3 separate regions of the Homo sapiens genome follow, and all the other regions are linked to region 2. Evidence: fine-mapped expression QTL. A gene starts in region 2. Each other region holds a variant in brackets. All regions are shown on one strand. Distances are between the middles of the regions. Region 1 overlaps MGLL (monoglyceride lipase). Region 2 holds the start of ABTB1 (ankyrin repeat and BTB domain containing 1). Region 3 overlaps MGLL (monoglyceride lipase).

Region 1 (5,000 bases), 38 kb after region 2:
TGGGTTGTGAGAATGCTTGTCACAGCAAACACCAAACATTCTGCTTCTGACATTCTGGCAACAGAGCTAACCCGCTTCCCTTCAGACAGAATTCCAGATCTTCCCTGGGGCCTGTGCACTCTTGAGTCCCAGGCCCCTGCACCCTCGATTCCCGGCCAGTGGCCCATCCCCCATAGTCCTGCTCACTCAGCTTCTTAGGCAAACATTTCTTTTTGGTTTGAGGCTTTTATAGCTGCAGGGTTCCATGGGAAATGTCTTAGCTAAAGATGTGCCTCAAGACACCCCGATGTTAGATGCCTTTCCCAACACATTTTCCCCTCAGCGTTGCTATTTTTAAAGCTCAGCAGAACGTTCAGAGGGAGACGCAGAGCTGCGGCAGGCGAGGGAGGGAAAGGCGTGCTCTTGATTTTTCCAACTGCAGTCCAGCCTTGGGGCTGACCGGCCACCTCCCTTCCTCATGTCTTCTCAGCAGGGACATTTATTAGTGTTTCTAAATAACTGATGACCTGGGCAGCCAGAAACCCGAGGCAGGAGGGCTCGGATGGGGGCTGTGGGTGGGGCAGGAACAGAGGAGGGGAGCCCCACCAGGTGCTTCCATCCTGAGTAAGACCGAAGAATTTCTCATTATTGCAAAAAGGAGAGAAAAGATCTGAAATTGGATGCTTTTAAATAGAGAGGGTTTGGAATCTCTTTTTAGTACCTGTTTTTTTCTTCCTCTTTGCCCGTGTATTTTCAGGTGTTCAGATAAACAACGTGGATTTGCACCTGGGTGCTTTGTCTTAAAGGGAGGCCCCTCCCTCCCTGACCCATCTTTCTCAAACCTACTGTTGTCCTGGCACTGCCGCTACAAAGATCACTGGTTTTACCAGACACCACACCTTCAAGCTAGAGCCATTATGAGGGATGCAGGCAGGTGCAGGAGCCCCTGCCCCACACTGAGTTTCCCTGTCAAAGTGGGTCCCGTACAGAGAGCAATGGCCATGGCCATGGGCTGCGTGGACCAGCAATCAATTGTAAAACAGGAAACAGAGCTTAATGACCATAATTACTAGCTAGAGGGAGGCACCAAAGCATGGACTTTTGAATAAAATGGGCTAAAATCCCATCTCTGCCCCTGACTAGTTGTGCAATCTTGAACAGGTTATTTAACCTCTCCAAGCCTCAGTTTCTTCATCTGTGAAATGGGGTTAATGTCGATCTCATTCATGTCAGGATTAAATCAAACAGTGTATATTTGGCTTTGGTCTTTCTGGGTCCTAAAGTTGTGCTCTTTCACTGTATGAATCTGCTTTTTGGAATTAAAGTTTTTTTCCTTTATTCAGATATTCTTTCAGAAAGACCAGGGGCCACACACTGGTCCCTAATGGGTCCAACCTGGCCCCAAGATGTAGGTTTGGGAGGCACTGTGGGCTTTAAAAACCAAATTATATTAGAATTTTAAATTAATGTGGATGGGTTGGATGGATCAGATGCCCTCTGGCTCCACACAGGCCTCATGGCTTGCTAGAATCTCTCACCAGTCTGATTTTTAAGCAGCTGGCCCTCAGAGGCCTAGGAGTTTTCAACCCCTGATCTAGAAAGTCTCTTTCCTACACACCACGGGCTATTCCTCTTGAGTTGCCCACTCTCTAAGTGACTCAGAGGGCCAGAAGGCCACAGTTTATAATGAAGCTAGAGTCCAACAGCCCAAGGAAGTCTGGGAACATCCCCAGAATGCTAGAGCACTGCACTCCACTTCCCAGGGCCCTTTAGGGAGCCAGTGATTCAGTGATTTAGGGAGCCAGTGATTCAATGATTTCAAACTCCTAAAGCAAGAGGGCAACTGAGGCAGAAGAGTGGCAAACTTATTTGCTTAATCATGAAGATAATGCTGGTGTCTTCTGGATGCTTCCTACCCATTAACTGCAAGCCCACTCCCATACCCAGACAGAGCACAGCTGGAGACCACACCTACCCACGTTCCCAGGCTAGCCTCACCACTGGCTGACCCCAAGCAAGTCATCCCACGTTATGGGGCTCAGTTTGCTCATCTGCAATATGGGTCTGTCCTTCCTTTGCTACCACTATTCTGAGTTACCCCCAGGGATCCCCTTCCTCTACTCTCAGTGGGTGGGGATGATACTACCCCCCTTTCCTGGACAAATAATCCAGGCCTGGATAATCAGTCAGTAAGAATCAGCCCTGAGACTTTTGCTGGAAAGAGGTGCTGTTTTTCCACTGGGGTTGCTCAGGTAAACCTGCTGGTGGCCCTCTTGGCCTTCACTGGGGGAAAGCCTGTCTGGGAATGAAGCCAAACCAGGGGAGATGAAAGCTGGGAAGAGACCGATGGAGAATAAGACTTTCAACGCCCTGGATCCAGCCATGTCTGAAGCCTTCAGTTCCATTCACCACAAAATCCCTGCTTTTGCTTAAATCACTTTGATGTAGGTTTCTGTCTCTTGCAACCAAGAGACTTGACTGGCACACACTCAACTTCCACTGTTGGCTCCTTTCATGTTTAGAACACAGCTCAGGCATCATAGCCAACCCACCCTTTTCACCCAAACCTGAAGCCAACCATGTCTAATGCACCACTGTGTCCTTGTCACTTTGCACAGGGCCTCGGTGAAAGGGCAGCAGAGAATGCCAAGGCTGGAGCCAAAACTCTGATTCCCCATGGGGGCAGCCACCCAAGCTACCCCTGGGGTTTCGGAAAGCCTCTCACCTCTGTCTTATTCCGAGAGAGCACGCTGGAGTCGATGGGCCCGAGGGACAAGTTTGGCAGCACAAGGTTGAGCACTTTCGCAGCAAGGACCTAGCCGGGGAGGGAAAACAAGGGCTGTGAGCACAAGTGGCATCCACACCCGGCTCTTCCGCAGTGACAGTTTACAGTACATTAAGGAGAGTGATGCCCAAACTGAACATCAGCCAGGTTCGTCTCCCAAGCCTGCGTCCTTAAGCCTGCATGCCCAAGGACTCTCCCTTCTGACTCAGCCTCTATTCAGCCTGGCTCTGCTCCACCTTGGGGGAGCTGGCCAGGCAGCCGCTGCGCCCAAGGTGGGAAGTCACGTCTGAATTTTGCCCGCTCTATACC[C/G]TCCCCATGATCGCTCATGGGTTGTAATTTTGCATCACTGGCAAGAGTTGCCTGGGATGAGCTCTGGCCATTTCTCTGGGGTACTGAAAATACACGGCAGGTGCAGAATCACACAGATCAACTGAGCACGAAGCAGGGCAGTGCGGAAGGGCCCACAGGAGCCACACAGAGAAAGTGTGCGTCCATTTCTCTCGGGTGGAAGTAGAAATAGCACCAGCTCGATGAGGAGGCTGTGTGGCAGAGGGAAGGATTGCTGGGTTTGATTCCTAGCTCTGCTGCCTCGTGAACATGGGCTGGGATTTCCACATCGCTGAGCCTCCGTTTCCTCAGCTGCCAGTGGGACCTTGACCCTCCCCCAGAGGACCACGGGGAAGGTGAATAACACCCTGTGTGCAAAAGCCCAGGGAACACAGCAGGAGCTTAACACATGCTCATTGAACTTGAGCCTGATTGAGGCCCAAACCTTCCCACCCCCTCCCCCATCTCTCCTTCTGGATCTCTTGTTTTCCCAGGAAAACAGAGAACCCGGATCTCACACTTCTGCCTTCAGAGAGGGGCTGTTTTCATTTCTGCAATGTGCACAGACATTTGGGGATGAAAGATGCTATTTCAAAAGTGAGCTGTGAAATGCTGAAATTAGAATTGGACGGAAGGTGGCAAGCAGTGAATTCTCAGTGTACATCAAGGGCACAGGGCACGTAGCTCAGTACCCTTGGCAGAGGGCAAGGGCACTCACAGGCACCGAGGAACCACCTTCTGGTGCATTGGGCACAGTTTCCCTATCTTTTTTTTTTTTTTTTTGAGAGTCTTGCTCTGTCACCCAGGCTGGAGTGCAGTGGCGCAATCTCGGCTCACTGCAACCTCTGCCTCCTGGGTTCAAGTGATTCTCCTGCCTCAGCCTCCTGAGTAGCTGGGATTACAGGCGCGTGCCACCACGCCTGCCTAATTTTTGTATTTTTAGTAGAGACGGGGTTTCACCATGTTGGTTAGGCTGGTCTCAAACTCCTGACCTTGTGATCCGCCTGCCTCGGCCTCCCAAGGTGCTGGGATTATAGGCGTAAGCCACGGCGCCCGGCCAGTCTCCCTGTCTTTGCAAAAACCCTGGGAGATGAGGCTTCATCCTCACTGAACAGATGAGAAAATGGAGGCTCGGTACCATGAGGTCCATGGGAGGGGCCCCGGGCTGGGGGGCCGCTTTATCTTCTTATGCCACACAGCCTGGATTACTACGTCTCTGTCTCTGCCGCTGTCTGTGTCTCTCTCCACAAATGTAACCCAGAGCTCTAACCTTCCCGTGGGTCTTGGCACCAGCGGCCACTGATGTTCTTTTGGGGGACAAGATTGCTGTGCTTGCCCACCCTCCCTGTAGGCCAGGGCTAAACCTTCCTGTGTCCTAGGCCCGCACAAGTGTGGCGTGACTGCCCACCACGATTGTTTCTCAACCATCCAGTATCAGGCAGACAGCAAAAAACGGGCTTTTCTCCTAAAGGGCTTTGTTCCATGTGCATGAACCTATTCGGAGTTCCATGTGGTCAACACTCCTTTTCTCAAATGGTAGAAATCAGTAATTCCTTCTTAGTGCAAAGGTGGCAGCCCCCTGCCTCTGAGGATACCGAAGCTTACTGCCCTCCAGCCTTGGCATCCAGGCAAGCAGATCTCATTCTGCAGCCGCCACTGTGCCAGGTGCTTTGCTGAGCCCTGGGCTCCGACTTTGACTGTCTAGTATAGAAGCATGCGGCAGCCTGACTTTGAGCACTGTGCAGGGGCATGGTGTGTCTGCATAATCGGAAGCCTCGAAGGGTGGCCGTGATGGGTCAGGAATGTTCAAGAGTCCAGCTAGTATCATGGGCCAGCTCCAAGAACGAGCCTGGGAAAGGAAAACTTGGAATTCTGGGAACTCTGCACAAGGACTGGGGTATTTTCAAAC
Region 2 (7,694 bases):
GCACGCATAAGGGCTTTGAAACTTGGAACTCCAGGACAGTAGTTTGAGCTACTTAGCTTAGTGGTCAAGGTGTACCCACCAGCTTGGGTTCTGGGGACAAGGAGGAGGGTGTGAGAATTAAGGATGGGGAACAGGAGGCAGGGGAACAGGTGTGGTCCAGCACAGGTGGGAGATGAATGGACACTGTACCTGGTGTGGCAGGGGAGAAGGGGTGTGTTCAGAAGGCAGTGTGTGGGCTTCGCAAGTGGCTGGCTGGTGTTATACAAATCGATGTTCTAACAGATCGATGCAGTGGAAAGCATGTCTAAGAGAGGGGGAGGCATGTGCCTTGAGGATCTGTGTGCAATTTGAGCCAGGAAGGGAGACAGAGGCTCAGGCCAGCTGTTGGAGAGCGGGGCCAGAGCCCTTGGAGGGGCACGCACCTCAGCCATGGTCACACTGATAGTGGTGTTTCTTACCCCCCAGGGGTGGTGCCCACTCAAGATGTCCTTTCCATGCTGGGTGACATCCGCAGGAGCCTGGAGGAGGTAAGAGTGCAGGGACCTGGACCTGTTAGCTTCTAATATGCTCCCTCCTGTCTCTGTTCCTCAAAGTCCCAGGAGTCTGCCCACATCGTGAGGTTCAAAGGAGTATAAGACAGAGCGTGCTCTGGGCAGGTTCCTTGCTTCAGGCCTCCCTTAGACATGGTTTTGTGGGAAAGACGGTGCATGTGCATGCTACCAACCAAAGGTCCAATGCAGGCAATGGCCAGGGGCAGAAAGGGGCCATGGGGGTGTGGGGGCTGTGCTAAGAGGCTGACAGTCAGGAGAGGGCCCAGAGAGGAAGGGTCTGGGGAGCAGTGAGGGTTAACTGGGAGTTTTCTGGGTAGACAGTGGCAGAGACACCATGCTGCCTGGTGGGAGGGGCGAGCATGATGGGTTCCAGAAACCAAAAGAGCAAGCCTGGGAGACCTGGACATGTGACTTGGCGTGGACGTGTGAATCTACTGGTGCTTGCACGGCCAGGCCCTGCGCTCCTGCTGCGGTGAGATGCGGCGCCTGGGGGCCAGGAGGCAGCCCTGCCATCTTAGGAGGTGCCCCCACCCAGTGCAGTCTGCTGGCTGCCTGGCCCATCCCGATCAACCTCTCCTACCCAGCTGCCGCACAAGCTTGGATGGGATGGCAGGGTCCCCCAGTCCTGCTCCTCACACCACCTTGCCTATGGGGTCCTTCTGTTCCTCATCTCACTTCTTGAGGACAGCCACCATCTCCACCAAAACTGCCTTTGCTCACTGTAGAGTCCAGTGCCCTGTCATCAGCCCTCTCCACTCCCGAAGGTGCTGCCATTTTTGGCAGGAGAGATGAGTGGTATAATGCTGGCCGCCTCTTCATCCTTGCATGCCAGGGGAGCAGAGGCCCTGGTGGTGGTGCTTTTCTGGTGAGCATGTCGAATGCCCACTGAGCACCACACTGTGCAAGGCTCTCTCCCTCAGTCCTCGCCACCACCCCATGGGGTTGTGAGGGTTAAGTGAGGCACCTGTTGAGTACCAATGGTGTCCCCATGGAAGATGAGAGCTGAAGCGGGAGAGGTTAGGTGACCTGTCTGAGATGGCACCAGCAGTAAGCGGTAGAGCCAGGCTTTGCAGGAAGCCTGATTCCGGAGCCCGGGCCTTTCACCACACTGCTCTACTGCCTGGAGGGCCACTGAGGCCCTTCCCAGTTCTGGAATCGTGGGTCCATGAACAGTGGGGCTGCTGGTGGAAGTGTGGGCTAACCTTGACCTTTTATACAGTCCTCCCCCTGCTTTTCGCTGCCCCTGAGTATTCTGGCGTTACTGGTCACTTAATTCACACTGACTTGGCCAAAAGTCATGCTGGGTCTTTGGAAATATACTCAGGTGAATCTAGCAAGAAAAACTGACCCTTGATAACAAAAAATTGAGAAAAGTACTGGAGATACACGGGTGGTTCACAGAAACCGGGGAAGAGCTGCAACCTGAACTCAGAAAGGGGGCCTGGTGCAACCTAGGCCTCAGCACTGGGAACTGCCCTGATCCCTCACCTGAGGAGCCCCTGGTGGTGCTCGCCCTCCTGCTTCTCTCTGCTAAGATGCTGATCTGTGGAGATAGCACCTGCCTGGCCCCTGGCGCCGATCTCCTTGGCCAGAGAAGGCAGGACTGACCATGACAACCTGCAGCGTGGAGGGATGCAGGCAGCTACATGCCAGCAGTGAACACGCCATGGGAAGGGAGGAAGCTGGGCAGCCGGGGTGGCCCCCCATGTGGCCTGCATGCCCTCAGTATCCCTCCCTGCACCGGCCCTGGCATCAGGAAGCTGACTGGTCCACCCCTCCCCACCGAGGTGGAAGCGGTTGTATGGTGGAGGATGTGTGGGGGGCTCACATCTCCTGTCTCTCTAACTAGTTAGGATAGGTGTGGGCACTCTCTCTAGTTGGATGGTGTCCAGCAGCATGGGTCCACTCTCACTGGAGGCCTAGGGCCACAGTGAGCTCAGACTCAGCGGCTGGGGCAGAAGCTATGGTGGGATGTGAAGGAGGCTGGGAACATGGGCATGGGGTGGAGAGGCCTCCAGGTGTACTGAGGCAAACGGGATGGGCATGGGGTAGAGGCAAGCCCAGGCGCCAGGGAACTTCAGGAGCCGGGAGTGCCAGCACCTTCTAAGCCTGCTCCCCCATCCCCACCCGAGCCCAATGCAACCACCCCAGAGGAGCCATGGCACCCCAGGACCTCAGCTGAGGAAACTGGCCCCTCCCACCCCTAGATTGGCATCCAGAACTATTCCACAACCAGCAGCTGCCAGGCGCGGGCCAGCCAGGTGCGCAGCGACTACGGCACGCTCTTCGTGGTGCTGGTGGTCATTGGGGCCATCTGCATCATCATCATTGCGCTTGGCCTGCTCTACAACTGCTGGCAGCGCCGGCTGCCCAAGCTCAAGCACGTGGTGAGTGTGGGGACAGGTGGGGCTGGGGGCCAGTTGAGAGGAGAGTGCCCATCGATAGGTGTCCTCATCTGCAAGGGGAGGCAGTGACTCTCCTGGGCGCACAGGGTCCCGTGGGTGAAGCAGCTGGTCAGCCTAGCACTGCTGACTGCTCTGCAGGGCACCAGCCCCAGGACAGGTGCCAGAGGTGCAGGGAGTGAGGGGGCTGCTAGCCCCACCAGGGGGCCCCTCCCTGGCACCACCAGCCCCTTTCCGGCGCAGGCACTGCAGGGCCTGAGCACCTGAATACCTCACCAGAGGCAGGCCCTGCGTTGGTGGTGCCCAAGGATCAAGGAGAGGCTCCAGCAGCCTAGAGGCCTCCCCAGGAGGAAGCGAGCAGAGCCCTAGCGATGCTCCCTGCCCACCTCGCAAGTGGAGTCTTCTTAGGGGGCTGTTGGGGGATCGATGACGTCAGGGAGGCCACGGGGCTTTGTAGTGCCAACGACTAGTAGGTTTATTTTGAGAAAGGAGTTGAGCTGCAGCAACAGAAAAGAAGGATCTGGCACCTGTGGAGGGTGCCGCGGGAACCCCCTGGGTGGGGTTGCACAGACGGCCGCGGGCCTGGCGCTGTCCGGGGGCTGGCTCGCTCGCCCATGGCCTCTCCCCACCCCGCCTCAGTCGCACGGCGAGGAGCTGCGCTTCGTGGAGAACGGCTGCCACGACAACCCCACGCTGGACGTGGCCAGCGACAGCCAGTCGGAGATGCAGGAGAAGCACCCCAGCCTGAACGGCGGCGGGGCCCTCAACGGCCCGGGGAGCTGGGGGGCGCTCATGGGGGGCAAGCGGGACCCCGAGGACTCGGACGTGTTCGAGGAGGACACGCACCTGTGAGCGCAGCCGAGGCGCAGGCCGAGTGGGCCGCCAGGACCAAGCGAGGTGGACCCCGAAACGGACGGCCCGGAGCCCGCACCAGCCCCGCGCCTACCCGGGCCGCCCCCGCGGCCTGGCCCTCGGCGCGGGCTCCTTCCCGCTTCCCCCGACTTCACACGGCGGCTTCGGACCAACTCCCTCACTCCCGCCCGAGGGGCAGGCCTCAAAGCCCGCCTTGGCCCCGCTTTCCCGCCCCTGAACCCCGGCCCCGCGGGCGGCGGGCGGCGCTTCCTGCGCCCCGGGACTCAATTAAACCCGCCCGGAGACCACGCCGGGCCCAGCGCGTCTGCCTTCTTGACTCATTCTTATTTCCGGGGTTGGGGCGGGGCGGGGCGGGCGGGGCACCCCGGGGCAGGGGCGGGGCCGCGGGGCGGGGAGGCCGGGGCGGGCGGGTCCTCCGGACGCCGCTGCAGAGCGGGGCGGGGCGGGGCTGAGCGTGTTTACATCCGCCGGGTGCGCGGCTTCGCCGCCCGAGGTCGTTCGGCTCGGGTACCATCCTCCGCGCCATGGACACCAGCGACCTGTTCGCCAGCTGCAGGAAGGGGGATGTGGGCCGAGTGCGGTGAGGACCTCGCAGTCCCGGGGAGGGTGCGGGAGGTGGCCGCCCTCGGAACGCCTCGGGCCCTGGGACGGGCGGCTGGGCGGCCGCGGAGAGGCGGGCGCCTCTGCCGGGTCACAGCCCTCGGAGCGCCCCCGCGGGGCAGACCACCCGGACCCCCGCCGCAGCCCCCCAGCGGAAGCGCGCTGGGGCGGGGACACTGATGGCCATTGACCCCCGGAGGGCTTCCTGTAAGAAGGGACTGCTCAGCGGAGGCCCGAAGGCGCAGAAGTGGGCGGAGAGAAGGCGGGCCACTGTTCGCCCTGGTAGGGCCCGGACGTCAGACCCCCCGGGCGCAGGGCGCGGGTATAGGCCTGGGACTCCAGACGTGGCCCCTTTCTCTCGTGCTCTCTGGACCTGGCGCGGGGAACACCTAGAGCCCATAATCGGCCTCCGGTCCCTGAGGATTCGGAAACTCCTGACGCAGCTAAAGTGAATCTGGCGCTGAGATGCCCCCTCCATGGGCCGGACGCGGAGGGAAGGGGTGCCCAGTTGGGTTCTGGGGCCCTTCCCCTCCTTGGGCTTCCACTATCCCGTTTGACCTCCTTTTTTCTTGGCCCTTCCTCCCCCTTGACCTGGTGCTGACTGACTGCTTCCACCTCCCCTGGGCTGGCGCCGGGCTGCTGTACTCCCGTAGCCTCCCTGGGCCGCTCCCTGACATCCCGTGCCACTCAAGAGTTAGTGCATAGTGTCAACGCTGAGTGGGTTCACAGCACTTCCAGGTGCAGCCTGGAGGCCTCCTTTGGGCTGCCCCCGCCTCAGTGGGGCTGCATTAGCATTGGCGACTCCCCTCGCTCACCTTCCGCATCCCATCAGTTGCTGTATCCCGCGACTCCTGCCTCCTAGAATTGTGTGCCCTCCACACCATCAGGAGGCCTGCAGCAGCTTTTTCCCGGGCTCCCTGCTTCTAACAGGGCCAGCTTCTTCCTGCAGTAGAGAGCTCTGGTGGGAGTGAAGGCTCCATCACCTCCTCTCCCAAACGCTGAAAGGCCAAAGGTCCAGCCTCGGCACTGGCTCTGGCTTCTGTCCCTGTAGCCCATCGTCCCCCAGCACTGATAGCACACAGTGTCTGCCTGTTCGACCCCACCTCCACATCCTTGCCTGCACTTTGCCTTGAGTGCCTCTCCTGCTCTGGTCTGCCTGTCACCTGCCCTCACCTGGGGGAGGCTTCCCCATACCAAAAGGGATGTTTTCTCTCCGTTCCTTTCCACGGGCCTTCTTTCTCAGACCATGAACCCGTCCTGACCCAGGCTCTGACCTCCTTCCTGCCCAGGTACCTGCTGGAGCAGCGAGACGTGGAGGTGAATGTGCGGGACAAGTGGGACAGCACCCCCTTGTGAGTGCTGGAGAGAGGGGTGGGGAGGGTGGGGGTTGGTGCACCCCTTCAGCACTGAGGACTGCCTCCTGTACTTCCTTCCTCCCTTCAGGTACTATGCCTGCTTGTGTGGGCACGAGGAGCTGGTACTCTACCTTCTGGCCAATGGTGAGAGCAGGGAGCCCGGCTCACGGGTGTGCGTGGGTGCATGCATGTGTGCGTGTGGGTGCATGCATGCGTGCGTGCATTCAAAGGCCTTGATACACATTTGCAAAGCACCACGATTCCTCTCTTACCACCCAGTCGAATCAGCAAGTACTATTATTGCTACTTTAAAACCTTTTCTCTGTCCACCTTGCCCATCTCTACTTCTACGACCTGGGCCCAGTCATCAGCATTTCTCCCCGGACACGGTGCCTGCCTCTCTCTTGCCATTGCAGCCAAGTTGATCTTTTCACAATGAATCTGATCGGCTAAAAATCCTCCAGCAAGTTCCCATTGCCTCTAGGATACAGTGAGCCTGCCTGGCCATGCCCAAGGCTCCACAGGGTCTGCCCTCCCACTGGCCTCATTCCTTCGGCTCTCCCTGCTTGCTTGCTGCTTGCTTGCTGCTACACTGGCCTCGCTGGGGCTCCACTGTGCTATGCATGCCCCTGTTCCTGCCCCAGGGCCTTTGCACCTGCAGTTCCTCCTGCATGGACTGCCGTTCTGCAAACGTTCACATGGCCCACTCCCCCTTCATTCAGGTCTCTGCATGCTGCCACCATTACAGAGTGACCTTTCATGACTTCCCTTCATTCAGTGCCATTCTTCTTCCTATTTTGGTTTTTTCTTTTTTTTTTTTTTTTTTTTGGAGACAGAGTCTTGCTCTGTCACCCAGGCTGGAGTGTAGTAGTGTGATCTCGGTTCACTGCAGCCTTAACCTCCCAGGCTCAAGTGATCCTCCTGCCTCAGCCCCTTCAAATCTTCAAATAGCTGAGACTACAGGCGTGCACCACCACGCCCGGCAAGTTTTTGTATTTTTTTTGCAGAGATGGTGTCTCACTATGTTGCCCAGGTTGGTCTCAAACTCCTGAGCCCAAGTGATCCACCTACCTTGGTCTCGCAAAGTGCCTGGATTATAGGTGTGAGCTGCCACGCCCAGGCTTGTTTTTCTTAATAGTCCCTGCCATCGTTAGGTAGTGGGTTGATTGTCCTGCCTCACTAGAGTATAAGTTCAGCAGGACAGGGACCTGTGTCTCGTTCACTGCTGTGCTCCAGTGTGTGGGACAAGCCCAGCCACCAAGTCAGCTCTCCGTTCTGTGTTGTCTGTCTTCCGTGTGAGTGAGTATGTGCCTGTGTGAGTGCACACAGACGTGCCCATTCGCCTAGCCCTTGACTGGGAGGGTGTTGGGGTCAGAGTGGGCCCAGGGTAATTTGGGAAGGCATCGCCAGAGATTCGGAGCCCCATGTGTGGGAAGGTGGGGAGGAGGGACAGGGAGATTAGAATTTCCCCCAGGCCCCTTCCCTGCTAACTGGTGAGCCCTGCCTCCCCCAGGAGCCCGCTGCGAGGCCAACACCTTCGATGGTGAGCGCTGCCTCTATGGGGCACTGAGTGACCCCATCCGCCGGGCTCTACGCGATTACAAGCAGGTCACGGCTTCCTGCAGGAGGCGGGATTACTATGACGACTTCTTGCAGCGGTGAGCCAGGGCACACGAGGGGTGCAGCATGGGGTGCGGTGGCCCTGGTGGGTGTGGCGAGTCTGCTCTGACTGTGGCCTGCACTGGGTTCTGAGTGCTCCGAGGAATGGGGTGGGGCTGTGCCAAGTATCCTCCCTCCTGGCTTGTCCCTCCCCAGGCTTCTAGAGCAGGGCATCCACAGTGACGTGGTCTTTGTAGTACACGGGAAGCCATTCCGGGTGCATCGCTGCGTCCTGGGTGCACGTAGTGCCTACT
Region 3 (5,000 bases), 87 kb after region 2:
ACATATATACAACCAGTGAGATGGCTTTTGGCTTCAAGAAATTGATGACTTAGCTCTGGAACTCTCCGCTTTCAAAGAACACTGAGATTAGCTAGATGCCCAGTTGCCAACTCCAGCAGGAATCGTAACTCCAAGTGAAGTGACTACACCAGAGAAAGAAACTCTTCATTGAACTCCCTAAAAGAAAAAGCACCCAAAGAACCTTGGGGACAATGAAGAAAGCTGTGACAGTGTCACGAAGCTGGGGGACCTGCCTCCGAGAGAGTGTTTCTTGACCCCAACCTGGGTAGATCCGAATCCAAGCTCAGGGTCCTCCTGACCCAGATGTGTTCAGCCACGTGTCATCGACACCTTGTAAACAGATTGCTGATACAGGAGTGCCGGGAAGAAACGCACACTTGCTTACACTGGTGGGGCACCTAGCACACCTGTAGGTACTTGGCTGATGTTATTCCATCAAATCTGTACGGGAGCTGCCTGGGGGCTTCTGTTCCTGTTTTATAGAGGAGAAAACTGAGGATCTCTGGGCCCTGTGTGGCCAGCTGCACACGACCTCTGTCTCCTCTCCTACAGTGCTCTCCTCTCACCTCACCTCCTGTCTCCCGACTGTTCATGAGTCAGGCACCCTCCTGCCCCAGGACCTTTGCACTGGCCACCCCCTTTTCCCCTGGTCATCTGTGAGGCTCCTCCTTGCCTCCTTTGGGTCTTTGCTCAACTACCACTTTCTCAGTGGAGCCAGCAGCTTGAGCATGGCCCCCTGCCCCCACTGCCCCGCCCTCCTCCTCCAAGGTTTTATTTTGCTTTGTGGCACTTATCTCCAATGGACATACCCTAAAGTCATTTATTGCTGCTCATTGTCTGCCAAGGGCAGGGACTTGTGTCTGTTTTGTTCACAGCTGCATCTCCTGTGCCCAGCACCATGCCTGGAGTTGGTAACTGGGCATCAAGCTAATACATTATAGACTGAACGAATGAATAAATACACGAATGAGGCTTGGAGATGTGAAGGAGCTTGCAAAAAGTCAATAGCTAGAAGTTTTTCAAGCTAGACAGAAGCCCAGGTCAGCTTGGCCCTCTTAGAGCAGCCCCTGAGCCTTGTATAATTAAATGGTGTGTTCCGTTGTTAGTGCTGACAAAGTGCCAGTCTCCTTTCCTAACAATTCGGCTGTACCGAGCGAGGAGAATGGGGGAAGTCACCTGTAATTTTCTTTTCTGTCTTCCCCTTTAAAAGGGTCTTTAAAAATCAGATATGTGTTATAAAAAACAATGGGATAATGGGTCGATTTTTCATATCATGACAAGCAATTGCTAGGGAGAAAAATATCATTCTTGAAAATGTGCAAAAGTGCACTGGCTGTAAGTTGTAAACATGACCCTCACAGGAAAGGATATTCTGGGGGCTCCTGGCACCTATTTCTTTCTTTTTCTTTTTTTTTTCTTTTCTTTTCTTTTTTTTTTTTTTTGAGACAGAGTCTTGCTCTGTTGCCCAGGCTGGAGTGCAGTGGTGTGATCTAGGCTCACTGCAACCTCTGCCTCCCAGGTTCAAGTGATTCTCCTGCCTCAGCGTCCTGAGTAGCTAGCTGGGATTACAGGTACATGCCACCAAGCCTGGCTAATTTTTGTATTTAGTAGAGATGAGGTTTCGCCATGTTGGCCAGGCTGGTCTTGAACTCCTGACCTCAAGTGATCAACCTGCCTCGGTCTCCCAAAGTGCTGGGATTACAGGCGTGAGCCACTGCGCCCGGCCCTGGCAGCTATTTCTCACAGCGTCCATTATTATAAACCAGCTCTCCTATTCTGTGACCCCAGCAACTGAGACACAGAGTCAGGCGGCTCTCAACCCTTCTCTCTGCTATGCGTGACCCTGGCTAACATCTCCAACCTCTGCGGGACTGTCCTTACCCCTCCCTTGGTCCCCTACCACACCTGATGTGACCAAGGCTCTCAGCACCGTGCCTGGTACACAGTAGATGCTCACTGGAGGTGGGTGTGCCTCTCTTCTGAATCACGTGCTCAAGAGGGATGTCTGTGTTCACCTGCGGCCATTTAAAAATCTCAGCTGTGGGCATGTTCTCATGTCTCACTGCACCTTCCCCTGCTTAGAGGTCATTTTCCAAGGAAGGGAAGAGAGAATGTAATTCACAGAAGCAGTGCCACTTTACAGAGATGCTTTGAGCCCAGAGATCCCGATGACTTCAGAGACTCTTGGTTCTCGTGTGGACTGGGAGGAAGGAGTGGCCTGATGCAGAGCTCCTACCTGCTCAGATCAGCCCAGCTCCTTCTCCCTCACTCAACACAGGGTCCTTGGAATCGGTCCCTTTGGCCTTCAGATGATTCTCCTTTTT[T/C]GGTAAGAAAGCTTCCACTGAATAAAACCTTTAAGTGATTTTTCCAATCTGGTGGCGTCTGTACAATAACTGAGGAGAGAAATAATTATGATTATGGGGTCTGAATGATCCAGCACTTCTCCACGACTCTGAGGAGGAGGCAGCTGGCCCCTGCCTCTCACATTGACTGTCTTTGCGGGCAGGCCCTGCTTAGACGGCTTGGTTTTCTGCGTTGGAGAAAGGAAGCCAGTGGTGTAGCAGGGAGAGCGCTGGATGTGCACACAGCTTTCAAAGAAAAGCAAAGGAAAGATGACGGGAGGGAAGGGCAGAGCCACACAGGGGTGGAAGCATCCATTTATGGGACATTGAGTTTGTGTGGGGTCCTATGAGCTAACGTTTCCATAGGAAGCCTCAGGCCTAACATACAGATGGGAAATCTGAGGCTCAGAGAGGTCAAGTGACTGTCCTGGACACACAGGTATAAAGAGTAGGCCAGGCCACTCTGCCTCCACCCAGCAGGTTCACATAACAGAACTCTCTGGGCTAAGCTCCACTTGTCAACAGGGGACCAACCCCTCTGGGCTCACACCATGCCACACAGGGCACGTGGGTGCTGAGGAATGAAGGTGAAAGGACCTTGTTCTCCCCCTGCAGTCAGCCCCGATGCTGGCTCTGTCCCTCATCCAGGCTCAGGCGCCACCTCTGGGAGTCAGAGCATCTTCTAGCAGAGCCTTGGCAGGAGGCGAGGTGAGGAGCTGGCACGGCACCCCTGACAGACTGCGCGTCGCAAGCTATTCCTGGAGCCGCTGCGGCACTTCTGTCAGATGATGCAGAAACCCCAGGGCCACTCGCCTGGGGGCTGTGCCCCACGCCAAGCTGCTCAGAGGCACAGCACTGATTGGGGGGCGCTGGTCCAATGGAACCTGCGGCTCTGCACCCCAAAGCATTTTCCCAAAAGTTAAAACTGTAGCAAGGTGCAAGTGTGTAAGAATTTCAGTCCGACTTTGCCCCCTAATGACTGTGAGCTTGAATAAATCAGGCAGCATCTCTGAGCTTGTTTCCTCCATAGGGACGTTGCCTGCCTTACTCTGCTGCCGTAGGATTAAATGGGGTGATCCGTGGAAAAAATTATTAGCACAGAAGTCATGGATTTTTCCAGCTGGGCAAGCGTTATTTGATTTTCTTTAAACAGGGCTCATCCTCCAGGCCAAATTCATACCCACACATACAGGATTCACAAGTGTGAACTTGAGCGTATCCAAAGAAACCATCATTTCTGTGAAATGCCTTGTAATTCTGCAAGCCTTCACTGAGCAGCTGCTATGAGCAAGGTGCCACACAGATGCGGAGAGCAGAGGCCCCAGTTGCTGTGTTCAGATAACGTACAATTCCCTGTGGCCATCCGGACCCTTCGCACTATCAAGGGGCCCACCGCCTGGGAGGGATTTCTGGGGTGCTGATGACCAGACTGCGTCACTTTCCAGGGCCCACTGGGCAAACTGGCTTCTCCCCTGCTGCTGTGTCTTGTTAGAGCCACCGTGTTGTGTTGGGGGTGCTGGCTTAGTTTAGGGTGGGGATGAGAAGCTTTGAGGGACCAGGGTGGAGGCCTCCCCAGGGCTCCTCCTTCTCCAGCAAGCAGTACTAACCTCCACAGCCAGGGTGGAAGCCACAGAACACTCAGAGACAGCAGTCAAAGAGGCCACTTCTGCACTGCCTGGACCAGAGACTGCAAACTGCCCTTCAAGCTGCATTTCAAGTGCCTTCTGTGTGTGTGTCCACGTGTTCCCCTAAGCGACTGGGCTACACCAGTCCACCACAAAGGTACTGTGGGTTTCCTCTTTTGGCTGGTGAGGACACGGAGGCACAGAGAGGGCTGGCGCACAGCCGGCCGTGGGCAGAGCTGGACTGCCACGCAGGCTGCCTCCCTCCTGGCACGTTCGGCTCCTCGCTTCATCGGCCGGGCCCTTGGGACCCCAGCTCTTCAGGGAGGGACTCCAGGCAGAGCTTCATTCTCAAATGCCCAGACAAGCACTAAATATGCGTAGTGCACCCAGCGCACTTGCCGGGGAGTTGTGACTGCATCTGAGGATCCCATGCAAGGTTTGGGTCCTCTGTTTGCTTTTTAATTTCTCCCTTTACCTCTAACAGGGGAGAAACCAAGACACCGAGAACACAGCTTAATAGATCTGTGATTTGGAATTCTGATCCTGGCTCTACCACTCCTGGCTTGTTGTCTCTCCTGTAAAATGAAAATGACGATGGCTTTACCTGCCTTGGAAAATGAAATGAAATGAAATAGAGAATATGAAGCCCTTCAGAAAGGGCAGCCTGACAGTGCAGTCGTGGTTTATTGCTTCCACGTTAGTGACACATGAAGCACCTTGTCTGCCGGCATGCGGTTCTCTTTTCATTTTGAGCAGGACCCCACTGGGCTCTGCTCCTGAGCTCTCCGCGTCCTCCCCGCCTGCCCTGACGGTTGGCAGCATTACAGCCGTTTATTTTTAGTTCTTGGTGGGCCAGCCATTTCCTGGTCACATGCTGTTTGAGCTCCCACTTCAGAAAGGCTCAGCTCACAAGACAGACTCTGCCCATTCCCACCCCCAGCCTTTCTTAAGGGCTGTGTCAAAGCGAAGCCAGCCCTGACCCTACCTATTTTAAAGTTCCTTTGAGGAGTCC

The links. PIP is the estimated chance that this variant, and not a neighbour inherited with it, causes the effect.
Region 1: its variant is the best candidate, but not a certain one, in a credible set for the expression of ABTB1 in whole blood (TOPMed, PIP 0.88).
Region 3: its variant is the best candidate, but not a certain one, in a credible set for the expression of ABTB1 in skeletal muscle (GTEx, PIP 0.84).

Annotation. Positions count from the first base shown.
Region 1 is chr3:127,707,872-127,712,871 of GRCh38, forward strand. MGLL (monoglyceride lipase) reads right to left here. Exons shown (of 8, transcript NM_007283.7): 6 at 2,705-2,794. Among named protein-coding and RNA genes, the nearest start is that of ABTB1, 37 kb to the left of the region's middle. The variant C/G (reference allele first, on the strand shown) is at 3,074.
Region 2 is chr3:127,668,676-127,676,369 of GRCh38, forward strand. ABTB1 (ankyrin repeat and BTB domain containing 1) reads left to right here and starts at 4,277. Exons shown (of 12, transcript NM_172027.3): 1 at 4,277-4,406; 2 at 5,716-5,778; 3 at 5,870-5,925; 4 at 7,295-7,439; 5 at 7,597-7,694. The coding sequence starts at 4,351. It overlaps PODXL2 (podocalyxin like 2), which reads left to right. Exons shown (of 8, transcript NM_015720.4): 6 at 466-527; 7 at 2,759-2,938; 8 at 3,593-4,127. The coding sequence ends at 3,805. RefSeq lists silencers at 3,559-3,638, 3,649-4,248, 4,389-4,648.
Region 3 is chr3:127,757,478-127,762,477 of GRCh38, forward strand. All of the region lies in intron 3 of MGLL (monoglyceride lipase), which reads right to left. Among named protein-coding and RNA genes, the nearest start is that of MGLL, 63 kb to the right of the region's middle. The variant T/C (reference allele first, on the strand shown) is at 2,346.